Linked DNA regions of Homo sapiens. Changing the gene in region 1 together with any one later gene gives a genetic interaction. Each region holds a gene or a part of one and is shown in the gene's direction. Other genes may lie near its edges.

Region 1 (3,500 bases):
GTCCATAAGGAATATGTCCAAAAATCCTCTCTGGAGACCAGAAACCACAGATAGTACAAAACCATATATCCACTATGCTTTTTCCTTGTTGAGAACTTTCACCTTTTCATTTAAAGGAGGCACTTTATGGCTTCGCTTTGGCATATACAAATGGCCAGCATCACCACTCTTGGGTTTTGAAGCCATTGTGAAGTATAATAAGGGTTGCTTGAGCACAAGCACTGCCCTGGATACAGTGGATCACATGAGACTGAGATGGCTACTGAGTGACTAGGGTGGGTAGTGTGGAGACACTGGACCGAAGGGTGATTTGAGGGACTGCATTTGATTTCATCACTACTCAGAATGGTGTGCAGCTTAAAGCTTATAGATTGTTTATACATGGAGTTTTCCATTTAATATTTTCACACCACAGTTGACCATGGCTAACTGAAACTGGAAAGCAAAACCTTCGTAAGTGGAGACTACTGTAGTTGTTGTTTTTAACCCCATCTGATTTCTGTTAATGTATTTTTTGCACAGCTTTTAGAATTATCAAGTTGTGTGCTCTTCTAGAAATTATTATTATAATTAACTTTACAGGCATCCTATGTTTTGTGAGACACTACATGTCCTAGGGCCTTGAACTTATTGAAAGAGTTATAGTTTACAATAAAACCATAGCTTTCCAGAATGCCTGGGTCTCTAAATAGCCAGTGTTTCAGATAGTTAAAAGTTTAATACTGCTTGTTCTCATTGATAAATGGAAGTTAAACAGTAGGTGCACATGGGCATGAAGATGGTGAGACCCCTGTCTTTACAAAAAAACTTTAAAAATATTAGCTGAGTGTGGTGGCACATACCTGTAGTCCCAGCTGCCCAAGAGGCTGAGGTGGGAAGATCACATGAGCCCAGGAATTTGAGGTAGCAGTGAGCTGTGGTCATGCCAGTGCACTCCAGCCTGGGTGACAAAATGAGGCCCCATCTCTTTAAAAAAAATTTTTTTTTTTTTTTTTTTGAGAGAGATTCTCGCTCTTGTCGCCAGGCTGGAGTGCAGTGGTGCGATCTTGGCTCACTGGGTTCAAGCAATTCTCCTGTCTTAGACTCCTGAGTAGCTGGGACTACAGGCATGCACCACCACACCCGGCTAATTTTTGTATTTTTAGTAGAGACTGGGTTTTGCCATGTTGGCCAGAATGGTCTCGATCTCTTGACCTCGTGATCCGCCGGCCTCAGCCTCCCAAAGTCTGGGATTACGGGCATGAGCCACCGTACCCAGCCAAAAAAATGTTTTTAATTAAAAAAAAAAAAAGGTGGAAATAACAGACGCTGAGGACTCCAAAAGCAGGGAGGATGAAAGGAGGTGAGGGTTACCTGTGTATCCAAAATTACCTATTGGGTGCAATGTTCACTGTTTGGGTGATAGGTTCGCTAGAGGCCCATACCTCACCACTATACAATATATTCATGAAACAAACCTCCACATGTACCCCCTGAATCTAAAATAAAATAAAACCACCTCCACAACAAAAACATTTAGCCTGAGCTGCTTAAACATTAAATGTTTTTCGTGGAAATCTTTCTAAGATATTCTATTCACTTTTCTGCTGCCTTAACCAAAATATACTTAATGTAATTTAACATTTTCTTGATGACTCATGGTCCTAATTATTATTATTATTATTATTATTATTATTATTATTATTTTGAGACAAGTCTCGATCTGTCTCCCAGGCTGAAGTGCAGTGGCGCGATCTTGGCTTACTGCAAGCTCCGCCTCCCGGGTTCACACCATTCTCCTGCCTCAGCCTTCCAAGTAGCTGGAACTACAGGCATCCGCCACCACGCCTGGTTAATTTTTTTGTATTTTTAGTAGAGACGGGGTTTCACCATGTTAGCCAGGTTGGTCTCGATCTCCTGACCTTGTGACCCGCCCATCTCTGCCTCCCAGAGTGCTGGGATTACAGGTGTGAGCCACCACGCCTGACCCATGGTCCTGATTGTTAGTGATTATCATATATTGCTTAAAATCTAGATCAAACATTGGCAAATGATGGGACACAAATCAAATCCCACCCGCCTCCTATTTTTATAAATAAAGTCATTGGGACACAGCCACACTCATTTGTTTTTAAGGAGGCAGAGTTGAATAGTTGCCACAGAGACTGGCCCACAAAGTCTAAAATAACTACTTTATGAACATTTGCAAAAATTTACAGAAAATGTTTGCTGATTTGTGACCTGGATCATAGAATGTTAGTGCTGAAGGGAGTGTATTCTAGCCCCTTGATATAACCTGTGAGGAAACTGAAGGCATGAGGGTCTCTGGCTCTCAGTGTCACATGGTATTGAGGTGAATTTGGGTGACTGTGGCTCTTCCTCCCACCCGGGTGGTAGAACCGTTTCGCCTTTTGCCTCTGCCACTGCCTTTTTCCTCCTCAGTCACAGTGTCTGCAGGTCATGGCTTCAAGCCGCTGTGGACCTCTGCTTTCTCTTCCCCTAGTCAGATGCCATTTCTTCCATGTTTTCCTGCTTGGCTGCATCTCTGCATCTGAGGTTTTCCTGACCTTTACTGACTTGTTACGGGGTACTCGGTACTTTTTAGGTATCAGTGAGATTTCGATGTGATGTTCTTTATGACATTTTGGTGTCTAGAGTTACTTGGGAAGACCAAGTTCGATCATTGCTCTTTGATCAATAAAATACATTTTTTCGCTCTGTGAGGAATGTATTTTACTTATGAATGGTTTTTAATATTTTAGGCTGTTGCCAAAATGGTTCAACAGTGCTGTACTTATGTTGAGGAAATCACAGACCTTCCTATCAAACTTCGATTAATTGATACTCTACGAATGGTTACCGAAGGCAAGGTAAATTTTCTGTTGACATAACTCAAAATGATATGAACTGTTTTTTCTGTATTCAGAGATACTTAATGTATGTAGATATTTTGTATATTTTTATGTTTATTTTTTAAAGAAATACACAAAATGTCATCACTGTAATTCAACCAATAATGTCTTTGTACATCCCTTTCTGCAAATGAATCTATTTAAATACTGACAGCCATGGTATATCTAGATTTTTCTGGGAATTGGGTATCTTATCACGGATTTAAATGTGACTTTAAAAAAAATGAATAAAAATTCTACAGGGTCAGGGTGTGGGAGAAGAGCATTTTAGACATAGAGGAAATAATATTCAAAGATAACAAAGTAAGAAATGTATAATAGATGTAGGAAGCTGTAATTGGTTTGATATTATTGAAAATAGGGTAAGCAAGCCTAAGCATGAAAATTCATTCACTAGGTGCTTTAGGTTATACTGTAGTCATATTTTTGGTGTTTAATTTGTTGGAAATTATAAATCTACTAACATTACTTATAGCTACAAAAATGTTAACAACTTTAATACCTAGCAAAATTAGATATTTTTAAAGAAGGTAGTCTTGTATTTAAAGATAAGTCAGAATTAGAGTATTAATTGAAGACATTGGACTACATATAACACACTTTTCAAAT
Region 2 (3,500 bases), on another chromosome or scaffold:
CCACTGAAATCACCAAATGTGTAAGGATTATTAGTTATGTCAAAATGTAAAAGACAAAGGGAGAAGCTGCTATGTGCCTAATATTTTATTTGACAGCAATTTTTTATTCTCAGTAAAATTATAGAAGAACTTTTTTGATTATTCCACAACTCAATCAGATAGAACCAATCTGAATCAGCCTTAACAGTTGTTTATTATTACTTAGAGTAGGTCAGTCCAGATTATACAACTTTTTCTATATCCTTTATGAAATAATGTTTGTCTTTAAAGAACTTACTTTAACAGTGAATTTCATATTTAATATTGTGGCTTTAAAATAGAAAATAGATGCATGTAAATGTTTATGTCCATAAACATGCTTAGGATACCATGCTGATTAGGAAAAATAGAGATGAAACTAAATCACAACTCTTGTTTTTTATTTAAATGTGTGTGTGTGTGTGTGTGTGTGTGTGTAAAAGACTAGAGGGAAGTTTCAAAAACAGTGCTTTGACAGTGTGCCCACTTTTTTCTTTTGATTTCTCAAATTTCTCTACAGTAAGCATATATTACTTTTAGTAATTTTTATTAAAACTCACTTTAAAAACCTGCTCATGTTTTAATCCATTAATTTTCCTTAATCCAGTAGGTTTCCTTATAGCAAACTACCCTGTGGAATTTATTTATTTATTTGTTTATTTATTTATTTTTGAGACAGTGTCTCGCTCTATTGCCCAGGCTGGAGTGCAGTGGTGCGATCTCGGCTCACTGCAACCTCCACATCCCGGGTTCAAGCAATCCTCCTGCCTCAGCCTCCTGAGTAGCTGGCACTACAGGTGCCTGTAACCACGCCCAGCTAATTTTTGTATTTTTAGTAGAGACAGGGTTTCACCACGTTGGTCAGGCTGGTCTCGAACTCCTGACCTCGTGATCCACCCGCCTCGGCCTCCCAAAGTGCTGGGATTACAGGCATGAGCCACCACATCCGGCCGGAAATAATTTAAAATGTGCTATATTATAACATTATTTAAAATTACAGTATTTAAAACTATCTAGATGTCTAACAATAGAAGAATGTGAAGTAAATGATGGTACAGTCATAGGATGGAATATCATATGACTATTAAAATGTTATTTACAGTGGTTTTGATAATATGCCAAGATACTTATTATAAATGCAAAGTGGAAAATCGATTTAAAATTTTATATGTGGGGCCAGGTGTGGTGCCTCACACCTGTAATCCCAACATTTTGGGAGGCCAAGGTGGAAGGATCACCTGAGACCAGCCTGGCCACATAATGAGTCCCTGCCTCTACAAAAAGTAAACAAAATTAGCCAGGTGTGATGGCATGTGCCTATAGTCCCAGCTAGTTGGGAAGCTAAGGTGGGAGGATCATTTGAGCCCAGGAGTTCAAGGCTGCAGTGAGCCATCATCATGCCACTGTTCTCCAGCCTGAGTGACAGAGCAAGACCTTGTCTCCAAAAAAATAAAAAGAAAAGAAATTGTATATGTTATGTAATGTCTACATTTTTTTAAATGCATGGAAAAAAGCCAAAATGTTAACTGCAGCACTCTGCTGAAGCGAGAATGCAAAAGTGATTGTGTGCCTTCTATCCATGTTGTTTACTAGGTGGATTTTAAACGTCTGCAAAGTGTGCAAATGTTAAAATGTGATTTAAGCCTACTTGTGCTCTATGTTTCATATTTGTTTCATTTTGAGATAGGCCTGAACTTTTCCGATTAAGAGTTCTTGAGTTAAATGCATCTGATGAACGTGGAATACAAGTAGTTCGAGAGAAAGTGAAAAATTTTGCTCAATTAACTGTGTCAGGAAGTCGCTCAGAGTAAGTAAATTTGCCCTCCCTCCTCCATAGCATGTATTATTTTAAATATGTATTTCTGCCATCGCTCCTCAGCCTTTTGGCTAAGATCAAGTGTATTTCTGCCAAATTGTCAACTTTTCATGTTAGAAGACTATCCTGCCTGAGGTAAACAGGGATTTAATCAACTACTTATGCTCCTTAGGTGGCAAAGGTCCAGGATTACATTGGTGGTACCTAGACATATGTGTAAATTTTACATGAGCACATTTCAAAATTTGTGAAAGTGAATGACTAATTTTTGATATGCACCTTAAATTGATGGTGCAGTCAGTCACAACCGCTATAGCACCTAATGTATTTTTATGTGAAATGAAGACTGGGAGGTGGACTAAAAGACTCTGAGATCCCTTCTACCATTAATACTTGAAATCTGTTTTCTTGGTATAATTTTCATACAATTATGTTAATGCCACTTTTGGTGGGAGAAAAACTTTAATGGCAGATTACCAAAAATCAATGTACAGAAGGTAATAACCCGCAACGTGGGAGAAAATATTTACAAATCATATACCTAAAAAGGTACTTATATCTAGAACATATGAAGAACTTTAAAAACTCAGTAATAAAAACAAATAACCCAATTAAAAAATGGGCAAAGGCCGGGCGCAGTGGTTCACACCTGTAATCCCAGCACTTTGGGAGGCCGAGGCAGGTGGATCACAAGGTCAGGAGATCGAGACCATCCTGGCGAACATGGTGAAACCCCATCTCTACTAAAAATACAAAAAATTAGCTGGGTGTGGTGGCGGGCGCCTGTAGTCCCAGCTACTCGGGAGGCTGAGGCAGGAGTATGGCGTGAACCCAGGAGGCAGAGCTTGCAGTGAGCCAAGATCGCACCACTGCACTCCAGCCTGGGCGACAGAGCAAGACTCTATCTCAAAAAAAAAAAAAAGGCAAAGGATCTGCATAGACATTTCGTGCATGTGTAATAAGCACATTAAAAGATGCTCATCAACATCATTATCCATTTGGGAAATGAAAATCAAAGCCACATTGAAATACCACGTAACTCCCACTAGGATGGCTATGATAAAAAATACAGAAAATAACTAGCATTGACAAGGATGTGGAGAAATGGTAAACCGCATACATTGCTGGTTGGAATGTAAAATGGTACAGCCTCTTGGAAGACATGTCTGCTCAAAAACATGTACACAAATGTTCACAGCAGCATTATTCTTAATAGCCAAAACATGGAAACAGCCCAAATGTCCAACCGATTAATGGATGAATAAATGTGGTGTATCTATTTGCCATAGTATTTGACAATACAAAGGAATGACGCAAACACATGCTACAATATGGATGAACCTTTAAAATATGTTAAGTGGAAGAAGTCAGCCACAAAAGACTGCATATTATATGTTCCATTCATATCATGTCCAGAATAGGCAAATCTATAGAGATGAAAGTAGACTAATGATTGCCTAGAGCTGGGAATGACTGGGGGAAGAAGAGTGACTCCTAATAGGTACAAAGTTTCTTTTAGGAGTGATAAAAATGTTCTAAAATTAGATTGTGGTAATGGTTGCACAACTTTGTGAACATACAGAAAAACACTGAATTGTACATTTTAAATGGGTGAATTGTATGGTACGTGTATCTTTCAACAAAGCTGTTAAAACCAATATACATA
Region 3 (3,500 bases), on another chromosome or scaffold:
TTTCATATTAACTTATTGTTATTCGCTTATAACTTAATTACCCAGTGGTTGGAGAGTATGGTCTGTCCCAATCTGGATCTGTGAACAGAGACTTGTGTTGTGGCCCCTGTGTGTGCTGGTTTCTGAATGTTCTCTTGTGCTTGAGAAGATTCCGTCTAATCCCCTAGTGCACAGTTCCACATGCCATCCACTTAGCTATACCTGTTGGCCGTGTGGTTAATATTTTGTGTGTCTTTGCTAATTCTTCCTGTTGGCTTAGCCTATTCATACAGTTTCTTAAAAAAACAAAAACAAGAACCAAAACAAAACTCCCCCTCTGATGATGAATTTGTCTGTTTCTCCTTATTTTTTCACTTTTTAGAAAAAAAAAAAGTTTTTTTTTAGAGGAGATTCTGGTTCACATCAGAATTGAGAGGCTATATATATCCCCTACCCACCTCACCGTCACCTCCCCCAGCATCCGCACCCACCAGGGGGTACGTTTCTTACAGTCAGCGAACCTGCTCTGAGCGTCATTACCCTGAGTCCGTGGTTTACTTTAGGGTTCACTCTCAGGATTGTTACATCCTATGGGTTTGGACAAATACTATCTCGTATCCACCATTACGGTATCACACAGAATAGTTTCACTGCCCTGAACATCCTCTGTGCTCCAGCTATTATCCCTTCCTCCCCACCCCAACTCCTGACAGCAGCTAGTCTTTCTACTGTCTCCGTAGTTTTGCCTTTCCCAGAATGTCACATACTTGGAATCCTACAGTGTTGCAGCCATTTCAGATCGGAAAAAATTTTTAAACAGAATACTTCACCTCTGATCACCAAAATGCATAGGGATTTCTTCCTCACCCAGCCCACCTCTGCCCCGACAACCAGTCAGTTCTCTAGCAGGCATCAGCTGGGAGTCCTAAAATTTAATTCATTTCCAACACAGTTTGCCAGGAGGAAGCGTCAGATCTGACAGGTTGAAGGGCTCAGTCCCATAAGACTGTCCCCAATTCAGATGCCAGTTGAAAGTAGTAGTTTGTTACCTATACTTCTGACCTACCAGTTATTGGCCGGGCGCGGTGGCTCACGCCTGAACTCCCAGCACTTTGGGAGGCCGAGATGGGCAGATCATGAGGTCAAGAGATTGAGACCATCCCGGCCAACATGGTGAAACCCCGTCTCTACTGACAATGCAAACATTAGCTGGGCGTGGCGTCACGTGACTGTAATCCCTTCTACTCGGGAGGCTGAGGCAGGAGAATTGCTTGAACCCGGGAGGCGGAGGTTGCAGTGAGCTGAGATTGCACTACTGCACTCCAGCCTGGTGACAGAGCTAGACTCCATCAAGGAAGGAAGGAAGGAAGGAAGGAAGGAAGGAGGGAGGGAGGGAGGGAGGGAGGGAGGGAGGGAGGGAGGGAGGGAGGGAGGGAGGGAGGGAGGGAAGGAAGGAAGGAGAAAGAAAAGAACAGAGTGCACTGGTATATTTTGGAATGCTTCCTTTCCCTTCTTGCTATTGGAAACACAAGGGGATTTTTCTCCAATATTCACTGTGAGGCCTGGTCAGGTTCCTAGAGGTAAAACTCACAAAAGTATGGGGTCCCCTATGACTGGGTCCCTGGGGTTTTCAACTGTCTGACTTGCCTACACCAAGCCTGCAGCAATCTCTGTTACAGTCCTGGTTTTCCTCCCCCAACACTGGTTCCCACAGAATTTTCAGCTTATGAGTCTCTGCTCTGGTAAGTTGTGATTGTCTGTCTTCTCCTGTTGGTCTCTCCAGTTTAGGGGGCAGTGGTTTGCCCTATGACCTAACTTCTCTTATGGATCTAAGAAGAGTTGGTTTTTCAGTTTATTCAGCTTTTTACCTGTTGTTAGGTAGAGTGGCAACTTCCAAGCTCCTGACTTATGTGAAACTGGAAAGCAGAAGTCTCTTATCATTTTGTATTTATGCATTTTGATTGTTGATCTGTATGCTTGACCAGCAACATTGAGTATTCCAGCCCTATCATCAGGCAAGTTTTAGAAACATTATCTTAGAAGTATTGGTGGGAAGCAGCTTTTGTCTATCTTGAAGTGTGTATATTTCCCTGTTTGTTCAAGGTGGTTGCCGTCTTCTGGCTTCCATTGTTGGCTGTTGTTGAAAACATCGGCTGCCCTTCAAATTACTTTTCTTTGATTGGTAAATATGTCTTTTCTATCAGGCGCATTATAAAAGTATTCTCTCTTTTCAGTTTTCTGCTATTTCACAAAGACATTGTAAGAGATTTGTTTTTACTTATCCTATTGGATATTTTGTGTGCTTCCCGGGGCTGGATTGTTGCATGGGTTTTGAGAAATTCTCAGATGTGTCTTCAAGTATCACCTTTACTCGATTCCCTCTCTCCTCTCCTCTGGGTTGCCAATTAGATGTGAGTCTCATCATTTCATCTCATCCTTCTCCGTGTCTCCTAACCTGTCTTTCATAAAATTTTCCTTCTTGTCTCTGTTTCATTTTGGATGACTTCTTCAGTTCTGTCTTCCTGTTCACAAATTCTCCTTCAGACAGGAAGTGAAACAGTCACTCAGTAGGATGGATAAGACTGTTTCGCCTGTTAATAGATTTCATCTCTGCAGGTTCCGTTTGCTTCTATTTTCAGATCCAGCTGGGCCGCTTTGCTGGCCTGTCCCTGCTTGCTATTGCCTGTCATCTGGGAGTCCGTCCTTATGTCTTTAAGCCTGTAATATTTACTGGATTTTATTATGTATCTGATAACTCCTCCATCTGAAGCGTCCATCTGTTTGTCGTTTCTGCTGACTCCCATTCACAGTTGCTCATGTTCTTGGGTGTTTGGTGACCTCGATTAGGATGTCGGTTCTTGCTGGGTCGTGACCTTGGTGATCCTGAGGGCCAGGATGCGCGTTTCCCTGTACTTGGGGCAGGCCCAGTGTTTGCTTTTCGGGCAGCAGACTTGGCAGCCTTTGCTCCCCAGAGCGCACACCCTGCTTTTGGTGCTTGTCTGCCCACTGGATGCCCTGCCGCGGTGGGGAGGGTGTGCTCATTCCTGCAGACGTGCCTTGCCACTTGCAGGCCTGCAATACATTTAACACATCTGTTTGATTCAGGAGCTGTAGGCAGGGATTGCATCAGGAACCTGGCCCACGTGGGCCCTGTGCCCCTTCTCTGTCTGTGTTGTGGCTTTGTCCACCCTGTGTCCTTGCTGTCTGCCAGGCCATTTTCCTACACTTTTTCTCTCCAGCCTTGGTTCTTTGCCTCCCCTTCCCATAGTAGGCCACAGACCATCTGCTTGGTGTCACGCCCTGTCCTGGGTCCACGTCAGTGCATTGAGACTCTAGGTCCCTCCAAGATGGCGGAGGGTAGACATTTCTCTTTTCTGACATGAGTGCAGTTGGGGCGTGTCTCATGCCTAGAGTGTGTGTGGTCAGGACCTGGTTCACATAGGTGCCATGTTTTGCTGGGATTGGTGGTTTTTACTCCCATTCCATGGTGTGTCAAGTGGGGATGGCATCTTCAGTCAATG
Region 4 (3,500 bases), on another chromosome or scaffold:
AATGGAAATATTTGATAAATCATCTGTGATAATGTTAATTAAAGCCTAAAACTTTTTAAGAAATGTTACTAAAGTATACTTCATTCTTTTGAGGGGGGTGGGGGGCTTAAGTTACAATAGGAAAATGTTACTCCATTTTCCTTAGTGTGGAAATATTTTTCTTGTTTTTTAAAAATAGGGCACTTTAAGAGTGCTGCTGGTTCTTTTGCATGATTTCCCAGAGTTCCTTTGTGATTACCATTATGGGTTCTGTGATGTGATCCCACCTAATTGTATCCAGTTAAGAAATTTGATCCTGAGTGCCTTTCCAAGAAACATGAGGCTCCCCGACCCATTCACTCCTAATCTAAAGGTAAGGTTCCAACTAGTTAAAGGAAAACTTATGTCTTAATATTTCAGTCCTTTCTCTGATAAGTAGACTGTTCAGCACTTTCCTACCCAACATAACACGCACACTATTAGTTAAGGGTACTCTTTAAAGGAAATAATGTTATTAAGCCTGATAGAAGGTATGATATTGTTGCTATTGCTGTTGCTGGTGAATATTGGTTCACAGCATTTTTCTAGTTGCTAGTTTTCATATTAATTTTGATATTAAATTTAGCTCTATTTACAGAACCACAGCTTAGGTGTTGGGGCAGTCATTTGCTGGGTGTGCCCCACATGGCAAAGAATTGCAGAACAAACAGACCTTTGTAATCTTTTTCTTTTTTTGAGGCAGAGTCTTACTCTGTGACCCAGGCTGGAGTGCAGTGGTGCAGTCTCGGCTTACTGCAACCTCCCCTTCGCTGGTTCAAGCTATTCTCCCGCCTCAGCCTCCCAAGTAGCTGGGATTACAGGCACTCGCCACCACACCTGGCTAATTATGTGTTTAGTGGAGATGGGGTTTCGCCATGTCAGCCAGGTTGGTTTTGAGCTCCTCACCTCAAGTAATCTGCCTGCTTCGGCCTCCCAAAGTGCTGGGATTACAGGTGTGAGCCACCACGCCCTGCCATAGTCTCCATATTTCACAGTTTTGTGTCTGTGCACTTGTGCAGTTGTTCCTTGGTCCCTTGCTATTCTTGGAGGATTGGTTCTAGGACCCACTGGGACACCAAATTTTAAGTATGCTTAAGTCCTGTATGTAAAGTGGCATATAACCTTTGCATATCCCCTTAAATGACATCTGTAGTGCTTATGATACCTAATGTAGTGTAATGCTATTATGGAAATAACTATTTTAAACTATATTAATAACTTTTTAAAATTTGTGTTTTTTATTGTTGTATTATTATTTATTTGTATTTATTTATTTATTTTTGAGACAGAGTCTCACTCTGTCACCCAGGCTGGAGTGCAGTGGCGCAATCTCAGCTCACTGCAACTTCCGCCTCCTGGGGTCCAGTGATTCTCCTGCCTCAGCCTCCCAAGTAGCTGGTACTACAGGTGCCCGCCACCATGCCTGGCTAATTTTTTTTTTTGTATTTTTAGTAGTGACGGGGTTTCACTAGTTGGCCAGGCTGGTCTCAAACTCCTGACCTCACGATCTGCCTGCCTTGGCCTCCCAAAATGCTGGGATTACAGGCATGAGCCACTGCACCCGGCCTTTATTGTTGTATTATTTTTTATTGACCCCATCATCTACCTCTACCTTCACCCCCCATATTTTCGATTTGAGGTTAATTAGATATGGAACCTAAGGGTATGGAGAACCCACTGTATTTTTTTGTAAGTTGTTGGAATAAAGGAGAGAGAGGACCACTTAAAATCTCACCACCCTGACATGGCTACTATAGTTTGTTTAAGAGACAGGGGTCTCGTTGTTTTGCCCAGGCTGAAGGGCAGTGACTATTCACAGGTGTGAACATAGTGCACTTCAGCCTCAGGCTCCTGTGCTCAAGCCGTCCTCCTGCCTCAGCCTCCAGAGTAGCTGTGACTAGAGGTGCACACCACTAGAAGTGCCCAGCTATAGTTTAGATGTAGTCTCTACTCTTTCTGACACATGCATTTTTTTTTTTTTTTTTTTTTTTGAGACGGAGTTTCGTTCTTGTTGCCCAGGCTGGAGCGCAATGGCGCGAGCTGTGGCTCACTGCAACCTCTGCCTCCTGGGTTCAGGCGATTCTCCTGCCTCAGACTCCCGAGCAGCTGGGATTACAGGCACCACACCCAGCTAATTTTATATTTTTAGTAGAGATGGGGTTTCTCCATGTTGGTCAGGGTGGTCTTGAACTCCCAACCTCAGGTGATCCGCCTACCTCGGCCTCCCAAAGTGCTGGGTTTACAGGCGTGAGCCACTGCGCCCGGCTTCAATTTTTTTTTTTTTTTTTTTTTTTTTTAAGGAGTAAGTGTGATGTCTGGTCTTGCTGGGGCTTCTTTTCAAAGACTCTTGGTGAGTGAGGAATCTTATTCCGGATTATTATTTTGAAACCGAAGTCCAAGAAAAATCAGTTAGTTGTGCAAATTAGACCTTTGCCCAAAAGGTATCTTGCCTCTGGGAAGGAAATACATTATAGAGTGGGAAATTTTTATCATTTTGAACCAAGATTCTTCTAAAGAAAGAAAGACTGATTAATAAAATGTGGCAGCTGTGCTCTTCAAGGCATTTATAGTGTATATAGTTTTAGAAAAACAGTCCCACCACTTAAGCATAGATGTAATTTACTAATAAAAATGATTCTGCTTGTGATTCTTGCATTTTATCTGTGGCAGGTGGACATGTTGAGTGAAATTAACATTGCTCCCCGGATTCTCACCAATTTCACTGGAGTAATGCCACCTCAGTTCAAAAAGGATTTGGATTCCTATCTTAAAACTCGATCACCAGTCACTTTCCTGTCTGATCTGCGCAGCAACCTACAGGTTAATTGGTTTGGCTTAAAACTCATCTACGTCTTCCATATAAAGCACTTTCTATGTATGGTCCTGTGTGTGGTCCATTTGGGAGTTAGTCTTTTATTGTCATTTCCATCAATTGGGTGAGGTTGATTAACTGGATTTACGTATTTTACTAGTTCATTTAATCAGTGATATTTTGCTACAGCTTTGGACAAGACAGCACTAGAAGAGTAGACCACAGACAGTCATTAGCTGTTGGTACTCCTAGGATTTTTCTGAATACCTGGATGCTGATTTACATTTCTCTATAGGATATTTTGGAAAGTTATATATTTACAGTCTGTATATGCCATGCAACTACAACTTTCTCTCCAAATCTTTAATTGGCACAGTGCATATTTTGATTTTATAAACTTTACTTTAGAGCTGTGCCTTGAGCTTCGGCTTCCTGAGGGAAATCACATTTCTCTTATTGATACAACCACCTTTGGAGCATCTGTGTGTTTGTTAAATAACCTCACAAATTCAAGCAAGTGAATCACAATAAATGTTTGGCCTTTCCATGAAGGTGTAAGAAGGGTTTAGAAATACTGGTGCTAGAATTGGTCCTCTGCAGGAGTAAGCATAAGGAGTTCTGTTTTGCTCATTTTAAGGTATCCAATGAACCTGGGAATCGCTACAACCTC
Region 5 (3,500 bases), on another chromosome or scaffold:
CTGCCTCAGTTTTCTTATCTATAAAATGAGTATTAACAGTACCTTTCTCCTAAGGTGGTTGTGAGAATTACATGATAGGGTAATACATGTGAAATAATTAGATTATTGCCTGTCATACAATGTTTAGTAAATGTAATGTGCTGTTATTAACTGGTCATTAGTTTCTTTTTTTCTTTCATAATTGGTTTATTGGTCGTGTTGATGATCAGTACACAGACATTTCAATTTGTACACAATTCTTAACATATATACTGAAAATCTAAAAAGCCATGTGTTGTAATTTTTAAAAAGTTATTTCAGTGACTTTCCAGCTTAAAATTGGGAAGCAAATTTTCCATAAGAGGCTATCAAGTACCAGTATCTTCACATGTTAGTAAGCTGTTACATAGATCTCACCAATTCACAGTATAATACCATATAGACTACATACTCAAATTTTCAATCTTCCACAGCACATTAACAAAGTTCATTAGAAAAGCAGGACTACCACGACCAAAGATGTTACAGTGCACAGAATTATGACAGGGAGAGCCATGATCAAAGAGTGTTTTTCTTTAGGAAACAATTCTACTAAAAAATAATGTGGGAATGAAAGTAATTTAAAATGTTCAAGACATTAAATGCAGGACTGCAACTCCATATTGCCATTTAGTATGCTTTGTATTACAGGATATAAAAACTAACCCCCCAACTATGGAATGTTAAGCTGACACTCAGGACAGTCAAACCCTCCCATAATTCAGTATCTCACACAAACCTGTGTTTACAAAATAGTTGGTAACAGTATTCCTCTGGGTTGTACAAGATGGGAAATAGGGACCACTGATAAGATACAGTGTGTTATGATATCAGTCAAACTTGGCTTCTTTATCTCTGGCGTCATCAGAGGCTGGACTCTTCTCAGTTTTAGTTTCTTCGTTTTGTGCAGGTAAATTTCTTTAGTTTCCTGGTTAGCCACTTTGGCCTGTTTTCCCTTTGCTCCCTTTTTCCCTTTGTTTGCACTTTTTTGTCTGAAGATTTATCCTTTCCTGCTGCCTTTTTTTAGCTTCGTTTCCACTTTGGCGGGAGCAGGTTTAGCTGACAACCGCATTGATTCTCTCTTAGGCTGTTTCTTCACCATCCGTGTGGCTGAGCTGACCTGTGGGCTCAGGCTGCACACAGAAGTAGCTGCTCACCCTGTGTGTGCCTGGCCCACCCATTACTTCGTTTCTAACAATAATATATTTGTTTTAAATGAAACACTAATAACGTACAAATAAATTGTCATTTTCTTGTTAGAATTATTTTTCCTCTGAGAACTTTACATTACAATTTTGAATGTGTTGCCTTTTGGGTCTTCAGGCCATGGGCTCATATTAAATATTAATGCTATTATTATTAATATGTGCCAGGCACTATAAAACACTTTACATATATTAACGCCATGTTGTAGGAATTATTAATGATTATGATTATTGCAGACTTTAATTTCTTGTCCACCTGTGCACGGTGTTACCTCTTATCTTTATGGGAATATTAAAGGAGAGAGTAGTAGAAGACCTGGTTATTCCATTAGAGGTTGCTTAGTGAATCCTTCTGGTTGAGGAAAACTAGATCATGCTGGAGACTATACCAACCAGATTGTTGTTGGATATGTGTGGGTACGTGTTCCCGTTGTTGCATCCTCTGACTATGGAGATGATCTGTTGAGAAAGGCAAAATGAGAATTTATCAGAAGGCTCTGCTTTCAGGTGTCCCGATAATTGAGACCTTTATCTCTGTGTCTTATTGATAGTTTTGTCATTTATGTGTCTATTAACAGGATCACTTTCTCAATAATAGCCTCAGGTTGAGGGGGTATTCTTTGATTTGGCTGAAGGAACTCCTGGATGCCAGACCATGGGGAAGCTTTGATTTAAGAGCATAACTGCTGTAGATGGACGTTTTTGACATGTAATCAAACTCCTGGAGTTTCAGATCTGCGTTTAGATTATGTGAGCTTTATTATTTATGTAAGGGTAAAGGAAAGGATTTGTAAGACATTTATTTATTCCTCTTATTTAATTTGTGGTTTTGCAAACCTAGTACAGTTTCTTTTGTTTTTTCTTAGAAATAAAGGAAATAATAAACTAGGATGGTTGTTAAGCTCCCTTCTGTGTGTGTATGTTTTAGGTGGTATTAAAGATAATCAAACATTATCAAGAAGAAGGACAAGGAACTGAAGTTGTTCAAGGAGTGCTTTTGGGTCTGGTTGTAGAAGATCGGCTTGAAATTACCAACTGCTTTCCTTTCCCTCAGCACACAGAGGATGATGCTGACTTTGATGAAGGTAAGGGTGTTCATCACAAGTGTGTCTTTGCAGTGCATACAAATGGATATTGACACAGGTCTCACCATAACTTTTGATAATGTGTGAATTGGGAATCTGTCAGGCTAGCCTACTTCACTTGATGTCTGATACTTTGGGAAAATTATATAAATTCTGGGAAATGAGGGTTTATACTATAGACATCATTAGTTTGGCCTTTACTTATTTGGAATTTGTGATTCTGATTTGTCATAGATTGGATAGGAACTGTGCTGATGTTGACTTTGTCAACATGAAATCAGCTTGCTAAATAAAGTTTTGAGGGACAAAGATCATCCTTATGTGTCTGTTATCCATTCCCTTCTATCCTCTTTTGAATAAGTCAGTGTTTAGAAAGAGATGGAGTTCAATTTTCTGCTTCAGAAAGAAGATACTCCTCAAGCATTTCAGAAATTTTATTTTTGTACTATAGGTGTAGTTCCTTTGTTAGCAAAGGCTGAGAGTAGTTAAAAGCTCACATCAAAGGCTAAAATCAGCATCTAGAAGATTTTTTAAAAATCAAGTTGAAAATAACTTCTCACTTGTTTGAAATCCCTGGTTTCATTTTCTGTGTAACTTTTTATTGTAAAAAGCACATAAAAATTTTAAGTATACATTACAGTAGTGTTAAGTGTATGCATATTGTGCAGTAGGTTTCTAGAACTATTTCATCTTGCAAAGCTCAAACTCTGTATCCATCGAACAATCCCTTTTTCCACCTCTTTCATCCCCGCAACCACCATTCTACTTTGTGTTTCCAAGAGTCTGACTACAGATACCTCATGTTAGTGGAATCATGTGGCATTTATTATTTTGTGAGTGACTTATGTTATTTAGCATAATGTCCTAAAAGTTCATCCATGTTGTAGCAATGACAGGATTTTCTTCTTTTTTCTTAAGGCTGAATAATAATTCATCATCTGTATATACCACATTTTCCTTATCCAGCCATCTGGCGATGGAAGTTTAGGTTGCTCCCACCTGTTGGCTATTGTGAATAATGCTGCAGTGAACATGGGTGTGCAAATATCTCTTCAAAATCCTGTTTCCATTTTCTTTTGGATATGTACCCAGAAGTGGTATTACATGGTAATTCTATTTTTAATTTTTTGAGGAACTTCTGTATGTTTTTTTTAATAGCAGCTGCACCATTTTACATTTCCAACCTTGCACA
Region 6 (4,278 bases), on another chromosome or scaffold:
AGTGGTTAGTACCCTGTAATCCCCTTGCCGATTTTGAAAATTAATCATTTCTGTCCACTTTCCTCCTTCTTCACAATTTCTCTCTCCAGACCATGTGGAGCTCATCTCATCTCAGTTTTTGCATATGTTACTCTTTCTGCTTGAAACACTTTTCCTCTCCAGATGGCATCAAGGGTGCTCCTGCTCAACACCAAAGATTTACTTTACTTTAATGTCACCGCTACAAAGTCACCTGTTCCTGCAACTACCCCTATTAAGATAGCATTCCTATTCTCAGAGAGCACTTAACACTGTATGAAATTGTTCTATTTGTTTAGGGTTTTTTGCCTTTTCCAAAAAGAATATAAATTCCTTGAAAGGATCTTGTCTACCCTGTTTCTCCAGCACTTAAATTATTCTTGGACAGAGTAGGCCCTCTTCAAGTATTTATTGAGTACATGGATTGCAAGTGGTACAAAGTGAGACTAAAATGTATCACTGGTAGAAAAAACTTGTGAGAAGCTACCAAAGAAGCCAGAGAAAGACTGCGTAGGAGTTACAGTGCCTACCACCTCTAAAGCAAAAGGAAACAAAATAATAATATGCAAACACTTAAATAGTGCTTATTCCATGCCAGGCACTGTTCTAAACATTTTATGTATATATTAACTCATTTTTATTCCTCAGAATAAATAGGTTTCTCACTTCCCCTGCTTTGTTTTTGTTTTTGTTTTTTTTTTGCCGGTGAGTAATGTGAAGCACACAGGTTAACTTGCCCAGGGTTATAGTAGTTAATGATAGCCTTAAAATTTGAACCCTGGCAGTGAACACTTTTTAAAACTACTATTTGATACTGCCTCTCCAAAAAAGCTGAGTGGTTGGCAGCATGGCCCCGCTAAGGCTTCTCTGTGACCGTAAAAAAAAGTCTATCGACTTAAAATAACTGGAGAGGGGATAAGAAATAAACGGTGCATTTACTTTCAGTCCACAGTAGTAGTAACATCGTTAGTTACTACGTGCGAACATTCTCCATTCTCATCAACTTCTCAGATCCCACAAGATTTCACCTTTGGCCACAAAAACATCCCATTTCACCAATTTATCTTTCTCCCCCAACCCTTATGCCGCCTCATTCCAGTGTTTGTTCATTTAATCTGCTCCAAATCCTGCATCTGCGGCTTTCCAGGGACCAATGTCAACTCATCTGTGAAATTGCAGAAGTACATGTCTAGTCTCCACCCCGTGAGAGGACTGAGCAAAGGGTGAAGTGTGCGAGCGGTCTACTGATAATAATTTCTATCACTCTCATGGTTATTTTAAGTATCCTTTTCTCCTCTGCACTTTATGAGAAAAGAAACGGAACTTCACGTTCAGAAACGGCCTCCCAAAGCCGCAATGGCTTCTCGCAGCTCGCTGGCCTTCCCCAATCACGCTTTGAGTCTGCGCAGTAGCTGCAGCCCAAGCCATTTCCCATTTTTCCGCCGCCGCGCCTTGATGACGTAATTTTCCTGCGCCTCGGGGCGAGCAGCGGCGCGCAAGGAAAGATCGGGTTCCGTTTTTCCCGCGGATTCTGGTGCCTGTGGGGCCGGTGACCCAACACCATGAAGGAAACGCCACTCTCAAACTGCGAACGCCGCTTCCTACTCCGTGCCATCGAAGAGAAGAAGGTATGGTTTGGTGCCCGCAGAATTGCGCGCTGCGTGGGCGCTCGGGTCTCAAGGTGTGGACTGATACCTGGCCCGCCTGGGCCCGGGGAGCTACTAGGGGAACGACCGGCACGTTCACCCCATCCCTCAGGCTTTATTTATTTTTTTTCGACAGGTTCTTTTCAAGGCTCCAGTCACCGCAGCAGTTGTCCATGCTGTAGTTTCCACTTTCCTGTATGGGCGGGCTGGTTAGGATTCCACTTTCCCCCAAGTGCTTAGCCCAGGGCCAGACAAAAAGTAGTTGCTTAAGAAATACTTGTTGAAGGAATAAATTAATGAATGAATTTGTGCTTACAGCGGCTGGATGGCAGACAAACCTATGATTATAGGAACATCAGGATCTCATTTGGAACAGATTACGGATGCTGCATTGTGGAACTTGGAAAAACAAGGTAACAGGATTTAAATGAGATACACATTCGGAAGGGAGAAGTTTGAAAAAAGACCTTATTGACTTGGTTGTTTATAAAGCAGCTAAGAAGTCTGGACAGTATTCTTTGTTTAGCTGACAAAAATAAGTATTTTTTTATGCGAGATTTTTTGCTTTTGTGGTCACACTTGAACTTTTTAATCATAAACGTATTTTCTGTCACGTATCACATAGTTCTTTTCTGACTTCTATAAATCGTATAGACAACTAGTAGTGATCATATGGAATTTGTTTCTCACACTAATATAGAGATCTTGAGCATCTTGTCATTAAGTGTACATCCTGCTTTCTTTTTCCTGAGTGACATGAAAATTAGGTTTTCAGATATTCATTTGAAAGTTGTGAGGCTATTTGGTCACATAATGGTGGTGAACTATGCCATGTGAAAACCTTTAAGAAATCTCAGGTTTTCATGCCATCTTGTATCAATAAATACTTGCTTTAGAGGTAAAGGTCACTGATTTTTAAAACAATCTGTGGAATAGTAAACATTGTAATAAGAAGAGAGGTGTTTTTTCTGTCGTGTTTTTAGTTGTACCAATTTATGTTTTATTTCTGTGTATATTATACTTTACATATAATTTTTATCTCCTATGATTTATTTGGCTGAGTATGATATTACTCACATTAAGATTGAAACTTGTTATCTGTTTCAGTTTTTTGTTTTGGAAGGAGAGTCTATTTGGTTAATACTTTGTAACTTTATCTTTGCAGAGTTCTTGGACAGGTTTCCTGTGAACTTGTGTCTCCAAAACTCAATCGGGCAACAGAAGGTATTCTTTTTTTTAACCTTGAACTCTCTCAGATGGCCGCTCCAGCTTTCGAACCTGGCAGGTATTTAAATCTTTTTCTTAAGTTGCTTTAGTCATAGGAGAACCTAACAGCAGTGAGCTTTTGTTTTAATACCTGGTGTTATATTTCATGACATTAGCCCATTCCTATTTTCTCCTTATAGGCAGTCAGATCTCTTGGTGAAGTTGAATCGACTCATGGAAAGATGTCTAAGAAATTCGAAGTGTATAGACACTGAGTCTCTCTGTGTTGTTGCTGGTGAAAAGGTGGGGAATATGCCCATAATTCTTAATCTTAGGATGAATACTGTTGATCATGGATCCCGGTATCTATCCTTTTATTCTCAGAACTTTAGTTAACTCAGTATTGTACTGGTTTGCTTCACTTCAGATGTTCTTGAGTGATACCCTTAGAACTTTGTGCTACCTCTCTCTCTCTGAAGGGACAAAAAGGGTGTCCCTTCAGAGGACACCCTTTTTCTTAAAGGTTTCTAAAAGGTTTTCACCCTTTATCTTAAAAGGGTGAAAATAGCAACTTAGATTTTTGTGTAAAAATATTTTATTCAAAGAACTTGTGGCTTTTTCATATAATCTCTCATTTTCTACATGAGTTCATAGAAGCAGGTAGTTTTCCTTTTTCATGCAGAACTCAAGAACAGATGAAATCCTTCATTTGGATAGGTTTATCGATTTACACAGGGCCACACCATGTCAGTGGCAGGGATAACTTTGAAAATCTTAGTCCCAATAAATTGTGCTGCATTAGGATATTAGAATTTTATTTTATTTTATTTTGTTTTATTTTTTTGAGATAGAGTCTCACTCTGTTGCCCAGGCTGGAGTGCAGTGGTGCAATCTCAGCTCACTGCAACCTCTGCCTCCCCTGTTCAAGCGATTCTCCCACTCAGCTTTCCGAGCAGCTGGAACTACCGGCGCCTGCCACCACGCCCGGCTAATTTTTGTATTTTTAGTAGAGATGGGGTTTCACCAGCAGGCTAGTCTTGAACTCCAGACCTCAAGTGATTCACCTGCCTTGGCCTCCCAAAGTGCTGGGATTACAGGCGTGAGCTACTGTGCCTGGCCAGAATTTGATTCTTGATTAGGGTATTTTGACAAGCATTTTCATCCCAGAGAAGTCATTTAGCTTCCCATATTCCATACCTAAGCATAATACTTCCTATTTGCATTACTTGTAAGGTTATTAAAAATATCACAAAACCTAAAAGTTTAATTTTTTTTAATTTTTGAAAACTTTCATTATTTTCTCTGAGGGACAGGGTGACACTCTCGTCCAGGCCGGAGTACAGTGGTGTCATTATAGCTCACTGTAATCTTAAACTCCTGGGCTCAAGAGATCCTCTCTCCTTAGCCT
Region 7 (3,500 bases), on another chromosome or scaffold:
TCTCTAACCCTTAGTTGGTAGGTGATTCATTTTATATAGCACTGTAGCATCACTTATTGTTATTCAATGTATATCATTATATTTAATTTTGATGTGGGTTTAGACCACATCCCCCATATAAATGTTGAGTTCCTTAAGGTAAAGATGTCTCATGCTTTTTTATATCCACTGATACACAGAAGCATGTGTAAGTTTAAGATGTAAGTTTACATCTTAAAAATATATGTATTTTTCAGACATTTAACTAGATTTTTCCTTACTATGCCCTGATGATAAATTAGGCACCTTTGAAAGTGGGAGCAATTATTTTAGATGCCTTAAGGACCTACCTTAAAATTTGCTTTTCAAAAAGCAGTAGGTCCTAACTGGGGAATTAGGAAGGGAAGAATGGAATCCACATGTCATTTTTATTATTTTAAAGAGGCTAACAAAAATTATAGTTGACCCTAGAGAGGCAGCTTATTAAGTTTATGTGCTGTTGGCTTGAATTTATGAACTCAGTAACAGGAATAAACTTGTCATTCAGAAGTTTTGACTGGTTGTTAATAACATTTGGGGAATTTCTGGGCTCTACAGAAAAAAAGGAATAAAACAAGAAGTTTAGTAGGAGATTTGGATCCACAACCCTTGAAGTGTGAGGAAACCATGGTTAGCTATTGCCTTATTGGAATAAAGACTAAAATGTGAATATTTGAGAATAAAGTGTAACTCACTTAAATCTGGCCATAAGTTTTATGTGACGTAGTTGAATTTTTTTTTTTACTTACTAAATTTTATGCTTTTATTTCATAGATATTATGCCTTAGAAGTCTCATATTTCAAATCCTCTTTGGATCGCAAATTGCTTGAGCTGTTGTGGAATAAATACTGGGTGAATACGTTGAGTTCTTCTAGCTTGCTTACTGTAAGTACTATACTTGTAAAGAATGCATTTGAATTTTATCTAAGCTTCATAGCCGTTTAATATCTGAAACACTGTTTCACAGAAAGGCTATACCTGACTTGGCCAAGACACCAGGGCTAGGGTGGGATTCTGCACCACCACAGCTGGATTAGGATTCTAGGCCAATTCAGGATCTGTGTCATGACCCACAGAGACCAAGTCTAAGTAGCAAACAGAGTGTCCAGATCAGGGTGAGATCTGCCCCTGCCATAAGGAGATTTATGGATTAAAAAAATACACATATTGATTTTTGTGTATCAAGTGTCTCAGCTTGGACTCTGGTTACAAGTAACAGGATACCTAATGAAACGAGCTTAAACAAGAAAGGGAATTGTGTAAGTTGCAAAGTTGAGGAATAGGGCTTAACTCAGGCACAGCTAAGTTTGCATTCAACCAATATTATGAGGTCTTTTTTTTTTTTTTCTTTCTCTTAGCATTGATTTCATCTTAGTTAACGCTAGTTTCAGGCTTCATGTGAAAGCAAGACGGCAGCTTTAGCTTTAGACCTCCAAGTCTCTCAGCTTCATGTTCAAAAAGAAGGTCAAGATACACACACACACACACACACACACACACTCTCACACTCACATATTTCCAGGTCAAGATACACACACACACACACACACACACACTCACACTCACATATTTCCGGGCAAAACTTCATTGTGTCTGACTGGCTTTACTTAATCACATGCCCATGTTTAGGCCTGGTGTGGGCCAACTGAATAAGCTTGATGAGCGGCTTGCGCCACGGCAAGTGCTTTACTGCTGAGCCGCAGCGTAGAAAACTCCTTCAGGAGCTCAAGGACTAAAAATGGGGAGGAGAGGTTCCCAGAGTGAATCAGAAGAGCATTACTTTAAAGCAGTAGATACTAGGAGAAAAAAAAAGAGGCCGGGCGCGGTGGCTTACGCCTGTAATCCCAGCACTTTGGGAGGCCGAGGCGGGCGGATCATGAGGTCAGGAGATCGAGACCATCCTGGCTAACACGGTGAAACCCCGTCTCTACTAAAAATACAAAAAATTAGCCGGGCGAGGTGGTGGGCGCCTGTAGTCCCAGCTGCGCGGGAGGCTGAGGCAGGAGAATGGCATGAGCCCCGGGGGGCAGAGCCTGCAGTGAGCCGAGATCGCGCTACTGCACTCCAGCCTAGGTGAAAGAGTGAGACTCCGTCTCAAAAAAAAAAAAAAAAAGAGAGTATCACTGAATTTTTTCTGATAATATCATAAAAACTTAACATATTTGGTAGGATATTATTTAACAAACTTCTCTATATTTAGAACTTAGGAACAATTTTTTTATTTTTCTAAAAAAGTAGGCCATTTCATATACTGCAGTATATATAGTGGTTAGAACCACAGGATTTAGAATTAAATAAACTGGGTTTGGAGAATATGAGCTACAGCAGCAGGAGTCATAGCAGGACCGGCACTTAGAAGTTTCTTATGCTCTTTGATGGAGTATTGGTTGAAAGGAGTACAGCTGAAACTGTAACCAAAGGAGGCATTACGCTTCCAGAAAAATCTCAAGGTAAAGCATTGCAAGCAACAGTAGTTGTTGGATTGAGCTTTCAAGGAAAAGGTGGATTCAACCAGTTAATGTGAAAGTTAGAGATAAAGAATTATTCTCCCAGAATATGGAGGCACAAAAGTAAAGAACTACTTTGCAACTCTTCAGGTTTATTCAGTTGACCTGGAAGGCCAAGGATTTTTTTTTTTTCTTTTTCTTTTCGAGACAGGGTCTCTGTCTCTGTTGTCCAGGGTATTGTGGTGGCACGATCTCAGCTCACTGCAGCCTCAACTTCCCAGGCTTGAGCGATCCTTCTGCCTCAGCCTCCCAAGTAGCTGGGACTACAAGGGTGAGCCACCACACCTGGCTAATTTTTGTATCTTTTTGTGGAGACAGGGTTTTGCCACGTTGCCCAAGCTGGCGTTGAACTCCTGGGTTTGAGCAATCTGCCCGCCTTGGCCTCCCAAAGTGCCATTACAGGCCGTGAGCCACCATGCCCAGCCAGATTATTTCTTATTTAGAGATGCTGACATTCTTAGAAAGTATGTAGACTGAAGTAAATCACTATTGAAATGCCATCAACATGAAGCTGCTCATTGCACTTAAGTTCTGAAATATTTAATTATGTAAATAATTGCCATGTCTCTTCTATAATAAACAAATGATATCTATACTAAAAAATAAAACTGACTTTGAAAACAACTCTGCCACTTTACTAGTTCTGAATGACTTTCAGAAAGTTATTTAATGTGACTAAGCATTTCTTTGTTGTAAAATGTTGATATGCTACATACATCATTAAGTACTCTGAGAAAATTAAATGGGCTACTTTATATAAAGCAATTAGCAAAGTGTCTGGCATATAATAAAGCCTCAATTAATGATTTTTTTTAATTTGGTGCATTATATTCATGGGAAAAGACCTCACTTAAGCCTATTATTTACTGGAATTTTTTTTTTTTTTTTTTTTGAGATGGAGTCTCACTCTGTCACCCCGGCTGGAGTGCAGTGGTGCAATCTCAGCTCACTGCAACCTCCACCCCTCCAGGTTT

What was found.
Region 2: changes in PSMD12 (region 1) and RFC4 together harm fitness less than expected from each alone (positive genetic interaction), as found in Homo sapiens cells (one large-scale study listed by BioGRID).
Region 3: changes in PSMD12 (region 1) and CARS1 together harm fitness less than expected from each alone (positive genetic interaction), as found in Homo sapiens cells (one large-scale study listed by BioGRID).
Region 4: changes in PSMD12 (region 1) and CNOT1 together harm fitness less than expected from each alone (positive genetic interaction), as found in Homo sapiens cells (one large-scale study listed by BioGRID).
Region 5: changes in PSMD12 (region 1) and EIF3H together harm fitness more than expected from each alone (negative genetic interaction), as found in Homo sapiens cells (one large-scale study listed by BioGRID).
Region 6: changes in PSMD12 (region 1) and EXOSC9 together harm fitness more than expected from each alone (negative genetic interaction), as found in Homo sapiens cells (one large-scale study listed by BioGRID).
Region 7: changes in PSMD12 (region 1) and COPS5 together harm fitness less than expected from each alone (positive genetic interaction), as found in Homo sapiens cells (one large-scale study listed by BioGRID).

What each region holds. Positions count from the first base shown.
Region 1 is NC_000017.11:67,349,578-67,353,077, reverse strand, and holds part of PSMD12 (26S proteasome non-ATPase regulatory subunit 12), read left to right. Parts: intron 1-2,741; coding exon 2,742-2,849; intron 2,850-3,500. UniProt on the Homo sapiens protein: Component of the 26S proteasome, a multiprotein complex involved in the ATP-dependent degradation of ubiquitinated proteins.
Region 2 is NC_000003.12:186,792,983-186,796,482, reverse strand, and holds part of RFC4 (replication factor C subunit 4), read left to right. Parts: intron 1-1,705; coding exon 1,706-1,825; intron 1,826-3,500. UniProt on the Homo sapiens protein: Subunit of the replication factor C (RFC) complex which acts during elongation of primed DNA templates by DNA polymerases delta and epsilon, and is necessary for ATP-dependent loading of proliferating cell nuclear antigen (PCNA) onto primed DNA.
Region 3 is NC_000011.10:3,029,924-3,033,423, reverse strand, and holds part of CARS1 (cysteine--tRNA ligase, cytoplasmic), read left to right. Parts: intron 1-1,847; exon of another isoform or gene 1,848-3,500. UniProt on the Homo sapiens protein: Catalyzes the ATP-dependent ligation of cysteine to tRNA(Cys).
Region 4 is NC_000016.10:58,525,327-58,528,826, reverse strand, and holds part of CNOT1 (CCR4-NOT transcription complex subunit 1), read left to right. Parts: intron 1-178; coding exon 179-352; intron 353-721; exon of another isoform or gene 722-904; intron 905-2,688; coding exon 2,689-2,838; intron 2,839-3,467; coding exon 3,468-3,500.
Region 5 is NC_000008.11:116,724,824-116,728,323, reverse strand, and holds part of EIF3H (eukaryotic translation initiation factor 3 subunit H), read left to right. Parts: intron 1-2,151; coding exon 2,152-2,308; intron 2,309-3,500.
Region 6 is NC_000004.12:121,799,845-121,804,122, forward strand, and holds the start of EXOSC9 (exosome complex component RRP45), read left to right. Parts: upstream 1-1,478; 5' UTR 1,479-1,580; coding exon 1,581-1,646; intron 1,647-1,982; coding exon 1,983-2,077; intron 2,078-2,829; coding exon 2,830-2,949; intron 2,950-3,070; coding exon 3,071-3,173; intron 3,174-4,278. UniProt on the Homo sapiens protein: Non-catalytic component of the RNA exosome complex which has 3'->5' exoribonuclease activity and participates in a multitude of cellular RNA processing and degradation events.
Region 7 is NC_000008.11:67,048,634-67,052,133, reverse strand, and holds part of COPS5 (COP9 signalosome complex subunit 5), read left to right. Parts: intron 1-792; coding exon 793-904; intron 905-3,500. UniProt on the Homo sapiens protein: Probable protease subunit of the COP9 signalosome complex (CSN), a complex involved in various cellular and developmental processes.